Linked DNA regions of Homo sapiens: region 1 is linked to region 2. The links come from fine-mapping of genetic effects on gene expression. A gene starts in region 2. The other region holds a variant in brackets. All regions are shown on one strand. Distances are between the middles of the regions.

Region 1 (8,305 bases), 50 kb after region 2:
GTTCTTCATTCTGTGAATAAGGCCCATGTTAAATTTGCCCCTAGGTTAGGATGACTCTCATTATTCTTTATTTATTTATTTATTTATTTATTTATTTATTTTGAGATGGAGTCTCCCTCTGTCACCTAGGCTGGAGTGCAATGGTACGATCTTGGCTCACTGCAGCCTCTGCCTCCCAGGTTCAAGTGATTCTCCTGCCTCAGCCTCCTGAGTAGCTGGGATTACAGGTGCACATCACTACACCCAACTAAGTTTTGTATTTTTAGTAGAGAGGGGGTTTCACCATGTTGGCCAGGCTGGTCTCAAACTCCTGACCTCAAATAATCTACCTGCCTTGGCCTCCCAAAGTGCTGGGATTACAGGTGTGAGCCATTGTGCCCAGCTGACCCTCATTATTCTTTACCCAACAGCTTCTATCAAGAGAATTTATGATGATGTATCTAATCTACAGAAAATAAATTTTCTCTTATAAGGAAGAGCTTGTACAGGATAATAATCTTTTCTCTGCTTAGCTCTAGGAAGAAGCTCCTCTGGGCATGTAACTCTTTGCCTTGTGTTCCTACTAAATTTGCTTCTTGTCAACAATACAGAGATACTCACAATACAATGAATTTCTCAACTCTTTAGAAAGGAAAGGAGAAAGGAAAAAAATCCCATCCTGCCTCCTAATGTCTTCAATTTTGTGGAGCAAATCAGCTCAATAAGGGTTTTCTTTTAGAAGTTGCTAAGAGTTATTAATTCATTTGCTCCCTATTTATGGGCACTCCAAGCAGGTCCTAAGTGAGGCAGTGTGGCAGTTACAGAAGTAGTAACTTCTAGAATTGGTAACAGTGGAATAAAATTTCTGCCTTTCAGCCTCCCTCAGTGAAAAAAATACCACTGCAGGTATGATTGTTGCTTGCATGCCTTCTTAAGCCTTTTTTTCTTCCTGTGGATTCCTTACCTCCTTGTTCTTTGGAGGGTACTTGGCACATCTTCTAGTTTACTTCCAATTATTTCTCAAAGAGTATTAGTGTTCTTCACTCCCTTACTCTTTTTTTTAAAAAAATGAGCACCTGTCATAAAAGTCAAGGGGAAAGAATGGAACAAATGTTGCATGGTCCCCAAATAGCCCTCTCCCTAAAGTACCCTTGCACATTATGTGGTGGTTAGTGGATTGGGAAGTGAAATCAATTTAACTTCAAGGACTCCATATTACCACGGAGGCCATGGTTAAAATTGCATTTCCTAATGTACTGATAATTCTGATATATAGCTAGGGTTGAAAACTACTGGAACAGAGAAATAGCAACCTGCCTAAGAAATCTGATTCTTTCAGAATGGGATTATCAGCATTTCTATTTTATTTTACTATTTTGTTTTATTTTATTTTATTTTTCTGAGATGGAGTCTCACTCTGTCACCCAGGCTGGAGTGCAGTGGCGTGATCTTGGCTCACTGCAACCTCCGCCTCCCAGGTTGAAGTGATTCTCCCGCCTCAGCCTCCCGAGTAGCTGAGATTACAGGCAACTGCCACCACTCCTGGCTAATTTTTGTATTTTCAGTAGAGACGGGGTTTTACCTTGTTGGCCAGGCTGGTCTCGAACTCCTGACTTCAGGTGATCTGCCCGCCTCGTCCCCGCAAAGTGCTGGAATTACAAGCATGAGCCACCGTGCCCAGCCTATTTTATATTTCATAACGGACAATTCTAGAAAGACTTTATTCCTAGAAGTGCTCTCAGAGATTATTTTATCCACTTCTACTTCCAAGTAGGGAAGCGCCAAAACTTCATTTAGTCAATTCCCTCTTGCTGTGTTTTTGGTGGACGGAAAGGATGTAGCCCAATTTATAATGATTCTCTGTAGAGATTACTCTGTATTTTTTTCCTACTCTATCTATCCTTCCCAATTCCTTCAATCCTTCATTTATGCTGCTTCTATTTGGACCTCCTTATTTTTTTGTATTGGGCTTCCTCAGAGTGCTGGGATGAGAAATTTACCTGCACAAGGCTCTACTCTGTGCATCGGCCGGTTAAACAATGCATTCATCAGTTATGCTTCACCAGGTAAGGGATCCCAGAATGCCCAAAAAGCATCTTCCATGGTAGTGTTTCTGTGTTGATAACTATTTAATGAGCACCCACTATGGAATTGCAAACTTTGATGGGGCCAAAGTTTTTAGCACAACCCTCCTAGTTATTGCTGAATGTACCAACTAGAACCTGGAGTATGGGCTGAAGTGTACAAAGAACAGGCAGAGTAATAGAACTTAGAAGGGAAATGAAGGTGGGCGCTGGAGGAAGAAGGGTCATGAGGGAAATACTGGCATGCTCAATTTATTACCTGATAGAAGGAGACTGAAGAGAATGGCCCAGCTCTAAGGTAGAAAATAGTGGGGAGGAATATTAAGCCTGACTTTAGGTAGAGTGTGCAAAGTGTCACTAAGAAGAATAACTAAAACAATGGCCTTTGCAACAACTTGGATGGAGCTGGAGGTCATTATTCTAAATGAAGTAACTAAACAATGAAAAACCAAATATTGTATGTTCTCGCTTATAAGTGGGAGCTAAGCTATGAGGAGGCAAAAACATAAGAATGATATAATGGACTTTGGGGACTCAGGGGAAAGAGTGGGAGAGGAATGAGGGATAAAGGCTACACATTGGGTACGGTGTACACTGCTTGGGTGACGGGTGCACCCAAATCTCAGAAATCACCACTAAAGAACTTATCCATGTAACCAAAAACCACCTGTACACCAAAAACTATTGAAATAAAATTTAAAAAACAGAAGAGTAATTAATACCATTCCCTCCCCTATTTTCCAGTTGGGGGGCAAAAGTCTGAAATACTTAAGAAAATACAGTTGGGGAAAAGCAGATAGGGAAAGTGGGGAATATGAGAGTTGAAGAGGCATCCCAGACCCAGGTGAGTTCTCCTCTCAAGGCTTTCTTCCATCTCCTTCCTTGCCTATGACACTGGGACGTCTGCAGTTTACGACGTATGTACATCGTCAACAAGGAGATCTGCTCTCGTCTTGTCTGTAAGGAACACGAAGCTATGAAAGGTAAGATGATGTCTGGATGTTTAATGGAGAGAAGCAGTTATGAGAAGGGTAGATAGGGACATGATATTACTATATCCAAAGTCTGGTACTAGAGGAGGGCTTCAGGCTACCCCCTTAGAGTCCATCAGCTCCTGCTGGAAGTTATCTCAAATAAACAATCTACATAAAGCAGTATGCTTGATATACAAACATAACCCTAAGAAAAGTACCCCTAGATCCCTGTCCTACTAGATTGTAACCCCACAGTGTCTCCTACTTAGAGAGCTTTCTGACACTCTGGCTATTTTAAAGATCATTCACTGGGGTTCTAGGGAAAATTTCAAGTCAGCCATTACAGATAATAGACTCTGCTAGTCCGCAGCCATGTTCATAACTAAAAATAAAACATACACACGCACATGCACTAATTTGGAGACAGTAAGGTTTGGATAGGGCCTATAAATAAAAAATAGATGGGACATTTAGAAATCAGCTATGTTATAAATAGTTCACCAATTCCAAGAACAATGAACATTTCTTACTGTGACATTTCAGGTAGAAGAAGGTAGAAAGATGTTATGGGGCAATTACGAGGGCCCAAAATGTGTGGTTGTAGACCATACATGGTGGAAACAAAGATACTCTCACCTTCCCCATGGCCAGCCCCGAACGATGGCTGTGGTTGGTGAAAACACCACAGACAAAGCCATTTCTGACTCAGCAGCCCGCTTTGTGCTGAGTTCCTGAGTAAGAGCTGTAGTTAACTTCGCAGAAGGAAACTTGCTGTGTGCCCCCATTGGCTTTGTGCAAGCCACCTGCAAGGGAAGCACCTTGAGATTGAGGATGGGTATTTGGGACTCTAGGCACTTTCAAGTATCTCAAGGGACTTCCTAAAGTTAGCTGTTTGCCCATAGTAAGCACGTAAATGTATACTGAATGATTGGATCTCATTTTTCTATTTAATAGATCCATGATTAGAAGAATTGGCAGCTGGATATATAAAGGAAACTAACATTTACTGCTCACCTGTGCTAGGTACTTTGCATACATGATTTCATTTTAATACTCAGAAATATACTGTTGAGGTAGGTATTTTAATTCTCATTTTACAGAAAGGGATAGTGAGGTTTATAAAATTTAAGAAACTTTCTAGGAAGTGGCAAATAACTAAAGTAAGTGGCAGAGCTGGTTAAAACCCGGATCTTTTTCTCTCCAACCTTTTCACTACACCACACTGAAAAGTCTTCTCTATCCCTTAAAACAAGAGCCTTTGTTATCTTCTGCATTCTCTTCCCATGATGTTCTGCTTCTCTTCTAGATGAGCTTTGCCGTCAGATGGCTGGTCTGCCCCCTAGGAGACTCCGTCGCTCCAATTACTTCCGACTTCCTCCCTGTGAAAATGTGGATTTGCAGAGACCCAATGGTCTGTGATCATTGAAAAAGAGGAAAGAAGAAAAAATGTATGGGTGAGAGGAAGGAGGATCTCCTTCTTCTCCAACCATTGACAGCTAACCCTTAGACAGTATTTCTTAAACCAATCCTTTTGCAATG[T/C]CCAGCTTTTACCCCTACTCTCTACTTTTTCACCCAAACTGATAACATTTATCTCATTTTCTAGCACTTAAAATACAAAGTCTATATTATTGCATAATTTTGCTGCTTCTCAATATCATAGACACAGTGAATAGATGATGACTATATGGCTTATATACAAACATTCTATGTACAATTTCAAGGGAGACTAAACTTTAGGCTAATAATCTTTACTATTGAATCTGTCTGATATAGATCTTAGGGTTGAAGAAGCTATCTTTGTCTATTTGGGCTAACCATAGAATTTCATTTATTTTCCTCACAATATTTTCCTAGACCAACTCCCCATCATTCACGTGTTCCTCTTTACTCTTACTTTAACTATTTTGCTGGCTTGCCCGAAAATTTGCCTGGCAAGTCTTCCTTATAAGACACATCATGGTAAGTTTTGTAGTCCTGTAAGATTCTGCAACACAGTCAAGAATTATACAATCCTACTAGCAATATATAAGGACCCAAAATGTCTTCTGCTAAGCTCAGAGGCTGGGGCTAAAGCATGAGGACTATGCCAGCTATAGAACTTGGACTCATAATTCGCTATCCAATTTTTCATGCAGTTGTCTAGTCGGGAAGTAAGGTTGGAAACTAAGTCTCATTTACTGATTCGTTTATGGGTAGTACCGGGATGAACCCACCACCACAAAGCAAATTAGACAACTTAATGTGAAATCATACCATTGGTTGACGTTTCCTTGAGTTGCTACTTCGTTCATCTTCACAACTTAACAAGTGCACGGTCGAATTATTGTGCAAGTGGCTTTTGGATATCCTGATTGGGGCCTAAGAAGGGCATTCAGACTTGAATTTTAATAGGCAGACAGAAAGTTTGCCTAATAGTTAATACGAAAGAGTGAAAGAAACACAATATTCAGACAACCCACATTCTTATCCTGGCTCTAGCAGTAACCACGTAGCCTTGGATAAGCCATTTTCCTTCATTAGGTCCTGGTTTAATTTCCTCATCTTTAAAATGAGAAGGTTAAATTTATCTTAGTACTGCTGGGCGCAGTGGCTCATGCCTGTAATCTGAGCACTTTGGGAAGCTGAGGCGGGTGGATCACTTGAGGTCAGAAATTTGAGACGAGCCTGGCCAACATGGTGAAACCCCATCTCTACTAAAAATACAAAAATTAGCTGGGCGTGGTGGCACGTGCCTGTAATCCCAGCTACTCGGGAGGCTGAGGCAGGAGAATCAATTGAACCTGGGAGGCAGAGGTTGCAGTGAGCCGAGATGGCGCCATTGCACTCCAGCCTGGGTGACAAAAGCAAAAGTCCATCTTAAGAAATATATATATATATTATATATATTCTTAGTTCTAAGATTTCCTTTAATTCTATGATTCTCTGGATTTAAATGCATTATTCATATTTCTTGAAGCTTAGATACAGTCTAATTCATAGCAACCATATCTGCTTTATCCTAGGTGAGGGTAGCAGTCCACAATGGAATAGAAGAAAATCCCATTATAACAAATGACAAATTATATATCATGAATCCTTCTGTCTGACTAACTCAATAACTTTCTATAAAAGCCAATGGAATTCAAATAGGAGCTAGGAGACAACAAGTTATATATGACAGTGGAGGTTGTATTCCTTTTATATTGCTGAGAAAACTAGTTAAATGATCAGATTCTTGCTGTTAAGAAACAATTTCGTTTAATGGGATCTGTACAACTGATTTTAAAAAAATGCTACAAAAAGCCCCAAAGCATATAATCTCTACTCCTTACAGTCTCTAGAATTAAATGTACTCATTTAGACAACATATTAAATGCATATTTTAGCCACTTTAGAGAAACCTCATAGGCACAGAGTTTCCAAGATTAATTTTAAGAATATCTTCACGAACTTGACCCTCCTACTCCACATTGCAACATTTCCATCAGACAGCATTTCAATTCCAGTATTATGTATATTGCAAATTAAACATTTTAAAATATTTTTTTCCAATTTATTTCTCAAAATAAAATGTCTTTTGTTCTGGTTCTTTTTCTCTTCTATGTTTACGAAAAAGGCCTGAATTTATGAACTTTTATTCCACTTTAAAAAATGTGTATCAGCCGGGCGTGGTGGCTCACGCCTGTAATCCCAGCACTTTTGGAGGCTGAGGTGGGCGGATCACCTGAGGTCAGGAGTTTGAGACCAGCCTGGCCAACATGATAAAACCCTGTCTCTAAGAAAGATACAAAAAAATTACCCAGGCATGGTGGCGGGTGCCTGTAATCCCAGCTACTCGGGAGGCTGAGGCAAGAGAATCGCTTGAATCAGGGAGGTGGAGGTTGCAATGAGCCAAGATCATGCCACTGCACTCCAGCCTGGGCAACAACAGTGAAATTCCGTCTCAAAAAATAAAAGAAGATTCAGAAGAAAGTTTTTACTCATTAAGGTGTTAATATATTTTTTTTCCTGGTGAGCCCAAATGACAACCTTGCTAAGCAATGGCTTTCAATGAAAAGCCATTTTTTAAACCAAAATAATGGATCTTTAATGTTAGAATTAAAGAATTTGGTAAAAATATCAGTAGATATTGAATGCCCTCCTGGTATCCTGAATAGATAGCAGCCTCATCTACCTATTCATAAAGATTCACTTTTATTTTCCCTTCTCTAATTGAGTTGATTCTACTCTGAGGCTTTTTCCATATTCCATGCTTACGATTCAAGAAAATTCTACTTTCTCCTCAAATGAACACATTCTGGAAATTTGAGTGTGTCTTCTACTCACTAAATACAGTTCTATGCACACTCAGTATTGTTTTGACTCATGGCAGAGAGTGCAAACCGCAGCTGGTTTCCCAATTTCTGAGTCTTACTTTGATGACATATACAGCAGTATATGTTGCTAGACACAAGCTCCTCCCTTCTCTGCTTCAGGGTACTTGTGGCCAAAGTTAGATGTTTAACTAACCACTTTACACCTGGTGAGAAGGCACAAACAACCTCTAAGATCCCTCTTCCTTTTGTACTGAAGCAGCTGTAACACAATGAAGAAGGAAAACAATCCTAAAAGAAGTGGGAACAAAGATGGCACCAGACCAGGGGATAGCCAGATGAGAGAGTGACAACAGGCTGACACCAGGGTTGGGGAGCCAGGAAGCTAAAAGATGGAAACTGTCAAATTCCAAATTCAAAGGGAATTTGAGAAGTGGGGAAGGGGTCCTGGGGGATCTGGAAACTTAGGGTAAAACAGAAAGACATCAGGAGCACAGTGGAGGAGAGGCAGGACTGTCCTTGTAGCTTTGTCAGCTCAGGGAGGCCTTACTTAATAAAGCAATACTCTGATAAAAACGGAAGCCCTTGTATCTTTGAGCATTTTCACCAACCAAACATCAGGGAAAGTGACTTGTTAAGACTGCGGTAAGGAGAGGAACAGGTGGCCACAGTTTTGTTTTCTTTCTTTCTTTCTTTCTTTCTTTTTTTCTCTAAAAACCAGTCAAGCAGACCCAGAAGCAGCAGTCAGACGACAAATTCTGGGCAGAACCCAAGATGGAAAAAGCAAATGTTTATATAAATAGAGGTGCAGAGCCCACAGCTTCCTGTTGACAAATCGAACTTCACTTTACCTCAAACCCTCATTTTTTTTTAATAGCTGATAATGATTTGGTGTTATTTTTCAACTTGTCCAATCACTTAGAGTAAGGTTCTAGTTTATTCCTAACCCTTGGGTCTTGCAGTTCTTTTCTCTACC
Region 2 (8,335 bases):
CTGTTTTGTCACAACTTGATATAGACACTTTTGAAATAAAAGGTAGTAAAATTAATCAGGCATGTAAATGTTTAAACAGATTTTTGTTTTGCCAGCTCATCAATTCACAAATTAGTACGCATTTCCTAAGAATCCAGTAGACTCCTTCAGACACTGCTCGGATAACTGATAGACAGATAAAAAATACAGAGATTACCAAAATTAGTCTGTAAACTCCATGAAGAAAGAACCGACAACCATTTTATTCCCTGATGTTATCCCCAGTGGGAAATGCATAACCTGACATGTAACACTGACAAGTTATGGAACAGAACATATTTTAATAATCTGCTATATCAAATTGTAAGAGAGTATCAAAAAATCATAGCTATTTTAATATTAAATACCAGGCAAATGGGTGTCCCCATAAGATCTATTTTTTTTTTTTTTATTGAGATGGAGTCTTGCTCTTTGACCCAGACTTGAGTGCAGTGGTACAGTCTAAGCTCACTGCAACCTCTGCCTCCAGGGTTAATGCAATTCTCCTGCCTCAGCCCCCCCGAGTAGCTGAGATTACAGACGCACACCACCACACCTGGCTAATTTTTGTATTTTTAGTAGAGATGGGGTTTTGCCATTTTGGCCAGGCTGGTCTCAAACTCCTGACCTCAAGTGATCCGCCTGCCTCAGCCTCCCAAAGTGCTGGGATTACAGGTGTGAGCCACCGCACCTGGCCCCTGTAAAATCTAAATGTAGCTATCCAAAATTCCTAATTAATGTTTTCGGGTTCTCTTAAAAAAAAAAAAAAAAAGAGATCAGGCCTGTGCTTACTTCCCATAACGGTCATATAACTGATCCAGAAATGATTAGCTTTGTTAACAAAGTTAGAAAAAAAACAAAAACATAATTTCAGAAAGAAGAAAAAAGATATAAACAGATGGGTTCCATGCAGACCAGCCTCTAGGGGAGTAGAGCTGGCTAGCTCTGTGGCTTTTGTCCTCCAAGCCAATTTTGAGAGGGGAAAAAAAAAACACTGAAAAAGAAAACATTAAAAATAACACCATGGCATTAGTTACCATGAAGCCAGAAAGTCAGTACTTTTCTACAAACCTAACATGTACACAGATACATATGGCATATAAATCTAAAATGTATTACGTAGATACTTTTGGAGGTACTATCTTATTTAACAATCCCTCATATGACAAGCAGAAAATTCCGAGACAATTAAGAGACAATTTCCAACATCTGTACGTAATCTCCCTACTCAACCTCTTGAAACAACTGCACATATCAGCACAGCTAACATTTAAAAATAATACTTTTTTCACTATCGCAGTCTCCTCCTCCCTCAGATTCTAATAACGTATTACAGTTTCTTTTTTCTTTTTTTTTGAGACAGTCTTGCTCTGTTGCCCAAGCTGGAGTGCAGTGATAAAATTTCGGCTCACCGCAACCTCCACCTCCCAGGTTCAAGCGATTCTTGTGCCTCAGCCTCCTGAGTAGCTGTGACTACAGGTGTGCGTCACCATGCCCAGCTACTTTTTATATTTTTCACAGAGACAGGGTTTCGCCATGTTGGCCAGGCTGGTTTCAAACTCCTGACCTCAAGTGATCAGCTTGCCTCATCCTCCCAAAGTGCTGGGATTACAGGTGTGAGCCACTGCGCCAGGCCACATAATTACAATTTCTAGAGGCTCTTTTCTCATTTGCTTGTGACTTAATCCCACTTGCAGAATACTCTTTGTAAACTAATCTGCCATAAAACAAAGTCTTTCTATGAATGTATATCACTGAAGCGCCCCCAAAACAGTTGTCAGCAAGCAACATACAATAAAACTCACCCTCCTTACTTTATGTTTGGTTCTCTCTCTTCACATGTTGTTCGTGGGTATAGAAGTTCTTCCTCCACCCATTTTCACTCAGTTTATGTCTCTATGCCTGCTCCCCAGAGGAAGATGATAAAAGCTACTCCTGCTTCCCAAAGTGTGGAACAACTGGCTCTGCTCTGTCCCCTTTCCCCATCCCCTACTAGTGTTCATGGTTGGTCAGTCTTTCAGCTCATAGAGAGGGGAGCTTTGAGAAATAAATCTAGTGACTTACCCCAGCAGCAAATCCTAGGTGGATACAAATTGTGAAAAGGGTAATTGGGAGATATTTTAAAAGAGATGTTTCTCCATGTGCCACAACAAACCAATGCCTGAAGCTGGGTTCGTGTTCACTGGTCAAATAATGTCCACTTTAGTGTGTTTCTTCACAGTATGACTGAGAAGGGGTGGAAGATTTAGAAGAGTTTACTGGTAATTTCCCTCTGGAGAGGAAAAGGGGCCTGAATGACAAGGGAAAAAAGAAGGGGCTAATTTATTGTCACTCTCCCTGCTACTCCTAGATACTACTACTGACAAAAGTATATTAAACAGGGATTCTAAGAAAACATGGGCAAAATAAGAAAGCTATCCACTAGAAACTAAGATAAGTAGAATTTTAGCTGGTAGCCAACCGGCTAAAGATTAAACGCTCAGTTCCTTACCCCCTGCGGGGGGGCAAGGCAGGAAGAGAAAAGTGGCTCTTGACCGAGTGGAGGATTGTCTGTGACTGAATTTGCTGTTCCCCTTCTTGGCTCTGTTCTCAGAATCACAGACTGCCCCCCTCCCTGACAAGCAGACTCCAGCACCTGGTAGGGGTAAGAGAAGACAAGAGAGAAAAAAGGGAGACAGAGAAAGATAAAAAACATCAACAGCCATGTTGCCAAACTAACAACTAAATCAATGACATGAAAGAAGGAAATTAACAGCACTAACCAAGATAGAAAAGAATAAAATAGGATTACCTCAAGACAAAATAGGCCTCCTCCCCTTTGACACACTAACCAAATAAAACAGTAACCATTGGAAAAGAAATTTAACTATGATTATTTTTAAAATTAGAGGGTTGCATACTAAAATTTAGGAAATAAATGTTAAATCTCTGAGACCGGAATTTCAGAGAGTGTTTTATTCCAAATGAATATCTTAAAAGTATTCTCATAATTGCTTTTAAGAAATCATTTTTTAAAATAGAAGAAATGACCTTTAAGGTACCCAATATTGTGAAAGTAACAAAAATGAGATTTAAAAACATTTCAATTTAAATGGTTATAGTTAATAATTAAGAACACCCATAAATATAATGAACATACCAAGCCCACAAAAAAAAATCTGCATAGTAGGCTGCCCATATACTTTCTATACCTATTTAGAGTTGAACCTAACTCCACAAAGATGTGGTAACAATATATATAACTAATGGGAAAATGACAGCATACTGAAAGAATTTACATAGCAGTTGCATTGAGCATGGTTAGTGCAATAACCCCTCACAGAACAGAATTACCACCCCATCGCTATTCGCCAATACAAATGGGATAAAACAGTGAAATAACAAATGTGTGATCAGAGATAAGGACATATTAATAAGGGGAGATTGAAATTATTACCACTCTGGTTTGGGTTTTTTTTGGGGGGGGGTGAGGGGCAAGTAGTGTAATATTTACATCATGCTCAAATTTTTAAAGAATCAAAACTGGACAAGCAATTATTTGGTCATCCCCTTCTCATTCAGAGACTGTCAAAGGAAAAGATGGAATGACTGTCACACTCTCTAAAATTTACACGTAAGGAGGAAAACGTGGAATCGAATACAGTAGCTGCGGGACCGCACCACGTGATCCTCCTCCCGCGGTCGCTCCATAGAATTTGTGGGAAGGGGGGGGAGGGGGAGTGTCGCCGCAATCCCGAGGACAGGTCAGCAGCCCGCGGGTCCGACTCCAGCCGGCGTTCCCGGGGTTACCACACCCCCTCGCCGGCGGGGAAACCATACTCCTTACACGCCCGAAGTCGCCGCCCCCTCGACACGGCTCGCCCGGTCGCACGCACACGCCACGGGCCGGCGCCTCCCGGCACACGCGCGAAGGCCGGGCCCCGCCTCGCTCCCCACCGACTCCGCGGAGCGGCGACCACCGGCCTCAACTAGCCCCGGACCCCGGGCGCGCTCGGGCCGGTCCCCTCCCCGGCCCAGCCCCCGCTAATCGGGGGATCCATTCCGCTGAACTCGCCCACTCGGGAGGGCGCGCCTTCGCCTCACTGCTCTACACCCGAGGGCAACAGCGGTCGTACCGCTCACCTGGGTCGGGGGGCTCCTCCCTCGCTCTCGGCCGACTGAGCCGGGCTGGGGCCTTCGAGGAAGCGCGGGCCGCCGGGCGGCTGGAAGTGGGGGAAGGAGAGGAGGGGGAGGGGGTCGGGATACCGGGAGCCGCCTCCTTTCTCCTCCGCCGACTGCGGCTCCCGCAGGCTGGCCGGGCGTCCTCGCACACTCGCCCAGTTTCTCACAGCCTCGCGTCCCGTCAGCTTCTCCCTCACCCCACTCCCACACACTCTCACTCCCACACACTCACACCCGGCCGCTCCTCGTTCCCTCACTCGCCTGCCGCGCGCGCGCGCGACCCCGCTCACACACAGCGCGCGCGACGCCGGCGGAGACCGCCCCGCTCCCTCAGACCGAACGCCGCCCGCCCGCTTGCTGAGGAGCGGCGCGCGCCCCGGCCCCGCCCTCCTGGCGCCGCGGCGCGGCGGGCGGGGGGCGGCGGCCGGAGGAGCTGGGGGCCGGGCCAGCGCGCCGAGCACTGCCGAGCGGATCTGACACCTGCGTCGAGAGCCGCCCTCCCAGCTCCTCGCCCGCACCCGAGCCATCGCTGGCCTCGGGGGAAGAGAGGCGATGGATCGCGCGCGGGGAGCGAAAAGGGAGCGCGAGGGCGCTCCGAGGACGCGCCTCCCCACCCGCCCCCAAACCGTCTTCACTGAGAAAGGGAAACGGATGGGGGGGGTGGGGGGCGAGGTTTGCTCCCAACTCGAAACCGCGAGATTAGTCCCTTCCGTTGTACGCCCTCCCCGCCCTCACATTCCCTGCTTAGGCCCCATCAATCTGCGCCTGGAACCCCGACACGAGCCCCCTACCCCCTCGGGCGCAGGGTCCTGCCGGCATCCCGACGCCTCCCGCCCAGCCCTTCCGCCGGCCGCCGCCCGGAGTCTCCGCTTACGGTGGTTCCTCCCTCCGGTAGGCAAAGATATGGAGACAAAGATCATTCATACCTAGAAGGTCTTTATCCGGGACTGGAGTAAAGACAGTACCTCTGTATATTGAGAGGCAAATTTAAAACCACATGATAAATTTCCTGGCTGAAGCGGGTTTGGAGATACAGGCGGGGTGGATAGCGCCAGCTCTGCCCCCTAGAAACCGGCGTAAACCTTGGACAAGTTAGTTGCTACGCTTCCTCTGAGCCTTTGTTGTGAAAAGATAAAAGAGTACAGTCCGGAGTCGTTGTGAGAATGAAATGAGATATTTTAAGAGCATTTTGTAAATTCTAAAACTATGTATAAAAAATAAAAGTATAGCCCAAAGGAGGCTAAGAATATGAATGTTCAACTACGCTATTACATTTTCTTAAGGAGAAAAAAAAAGGGCTACAGACGACCTCCCAGGTTTACATGGAAGATTCACTTCCAAATAACTTCAGTCACCAGAGACACCAGGTGTGAGGTACGGTAATGTGCTCACCAGTTTGCCTTCTTGCTGGTCTCAGCCCTGTCTCAGTGACCTCAGCCAACAACTTTTCACTGCTCCTCTCCCAGTCAATTGACAATATAATTTCATTTTCTGCTTTTAAAAAATTTTTTGACTAATTTCCTTCAGCGTCTCGAGAGTCCTTTAAAAGATGTAGCATAACCCAGGGTGGTAACTTCTGGATCCAGACTGCCCGGATTGGATTTATGGTTCCACTCCCTATGTGAACCTCTGCAGTAACTTAACCTCTCTGTATCTTTATCTGCTGAGCTGTAAAAGTGAGGATAAAAATAGTCACCTACTTCATGGAGTTGTCATAAGGAGTAAATGAGTTAATAAGTATATAATATTTAACAGCTGACACAGATCAAGTGCTGTTCAAAGTGTTTAGTGCTATTATAATGTTAGGTCAGTGAGAGTAACCTAGGATAGGCGTCTAGTTGGTTTACAAAATTTAGAGGAACAAACGCCCTATAAGATAGATACACTATCTTGAGAACAAAGGGGATAAGGTCTACAGAACTAAATTGTTGCTATTTACTTCCACTCTGATATTCAGCCCCCTGGGACATAAAGTATATTCAACTCCAAGACCAAGAGAAGCATTTTGTGATCAAGGGAAGCTTGAGCACAGAGATACTAACACTGAAAATCTGACAAAATAAACACAGTGAAATTGACACAGGGAAAAAAATGTACAGAGGATCAATAATAATATTTAATTAACCTATTCCTTCAGTCCCACTCTTAAGGAATCCAATTCGTGGTAACTGCATCCCCAGAAAAAGTGGGTTGTACTGGTGAAACTGAGGATAGGAAGTATGACTATTAACTCACTTGCCACTTGCCCTTAAAAGTTGTTATTCAGGGCAGGGCGCGGTGGCTCACGCCTGTAATCCCAGCACTTTGGGAGGCTGAGGCAGGCGAATCACCTGAGGTCGGGAGTTTTGGACCAGCCTGACCAGCATAGAGAAACCTTGTCTCTACTAAAAATACAAAATTAGCCAGGCGTGATAGCGCACGCCTGTAATCCCAGCTACTCAGGAGGCTGAGGCAGGAGAATCGCTTGAACCTGGGAGGTGGAGGTTTCAGGCCGAGATGGTGCCATTGCACTCCAGCCTGGGCAACAAGAGCAAAACTCTGTCTCAAAAAAAAAAAAAAAAAAAGTTGCTATTCAATTTATTGCTTCTATGTGCCATACACATTCTAAGATATTCTCATGTATGTAACAACGTTGCTTTTGACTTAAGCTAATAGGGAGTAAAACAAAGCTCAGGAGGGTATTTAAAAAAAGCCAATGATAAGGCTTAAACACATTACCATTATCATGATATTGTTAAGATAATGTTTATGTGAGTAATGATCAAATTCATACATCATACTTTTTATATGAAGTAATAAGGGGGCAAAAATTATTTACACCATTTCCATATTGGAAACCCAAGGTTCAGAAAGGCTGTACATACATTCAGTCATAATCTTTGAGAATTCATGGTTGATATGTTTAGGCGGCTGTGGACTCACATCTCCTTTGGGTAGCAACACCTGCTCAAAAATATTTTAAGTAGTTTTTCTTGACATAATCATGCACCACACATTTTTAACCAGTGAATTAATATTTTTCAGGAAGTTCGGAGGTGTCGGGGCCGGGCGGGGCGGGGCGGGGGGGCGGGGCGGTGCGGCAATTGAATCCCCTGGGAAGACATACTATAAGTAACCTAGCATGTCTGGAGTCAGATCAATCTGATTTGAAATCCTAGCTGTATTTACTAGCAGCATGAGATTGTTGCTTAACTTCCATAAACCTCAGTTTTCTCATCAGCAAAATGAAGATCATATTAGCACCACTTTATTAAGATAGAAGGATGAATGAGGTAACTCAAATGTAATGCATAACATAGTAAGTCTCAGTGAATGTTAGCTATTATTATTCAAGACTAACTGATACCAAAACAGTCAAATAGTAATCAAAGAGAAATTATACAATGTTTAGATATGTGTGATAATCATACAAATAGTTATATTTATTGCATATCCCTATGAGTGTAAGACCAACTCTATAGGTAAGTAATGTCTTTGAGATGAAGTTAGGGTTCATCCTTTGCCTGCACCAAAACACTTCCAGATTTTTGCTCTTATTCCTAGACACATGAGAATCAACAGGAGGGACCGGGCAGGGTGGCTCATGCCTGTAATCCCAGCACTTTGGGAGGCCAAGGCAGGTGGATCACCTGAGGTCAGGAGTTCGAGACCAGCCTGGCCCACATGGTGAAACTCTGCCTCTACTAAAAATACAAAAATTAGCCGGGCGTGGTGGCAGTTGCCTGTAATCCCAGCTACTGGGGAGGCTGAAGCAGGAGAATTTTTGAACCTGGGGGTGGAGGTTGCAGCAAGCCAACATTGGGCCAGTGCACTCCATCCTGAGCAACAGATGGGTACTCCATCTCAAAAAAAAAAAAAAAAAGAAAAAAAATTCAACAGGATGTTGAGTGTGATGGCTCACACCTGTAATCCCAGCAGTTTGGGAGGCTGAGACAACAGGATCGCTTGAATACACGAGTCCAAGACCAGCCTGGGCAACACAGGGAGAGCCTGTCTCTATTTTTATTGTTTTTTGTTTTGTTTTTTGAGACGGAGTCTGGCTCTGTTGCCCTGGCTGGAGTGCAGTGGTGAGATCTTGGCTCACTGCAACCTCCACCTCCCAGGTTCAAGTGATTCTCCTGCCTCAGCCTCCTGATTAGCTGGAATTACAGGCGCC

The links.
Region 1: its variant is fine-mapped to the expression of RIMKLB in whole blood (TOPMed, PIP 0.94).

What each region holds. Positions count from the first base shown.
Region 1 is chr12:8,644,242-8,652,546 of GRCh38, reverse strand. MFAP5 (microfibril associated protein 5) reads left to right here. Exons shown (of 10, transcript NM_003480.4): 7 at 856-885; 8 at 1,958-2,045; 9 at 2,973-3,046; 10 at 4,344-6,604. The coding sequence ends at 4,456. Among named protein-coding and RNA genes, the nearest start is that of MFAP5, 14 kb to the left of the region's middle. RefSeq lists enhancers at 3,471-4,670, 7,605-7,664, 7,306-7,828. The variant T/C (reference allele first, on the strand shown) is at 4,577.
Region 2 is chr12:8,694,103-8,702,437 of GRCh38, reverse strand. It overlaps RIMKLB (ribosomal modification protein rimK like family member B), which reads right to left and starts at 4,447. Exons shown (of 6, transcript NM_001297776.2): 1 at 4,141-4,447. RefSeq lists silencers at 3,843-4,012, 4,543-4,642 and an enhancer at 3,652-4,618.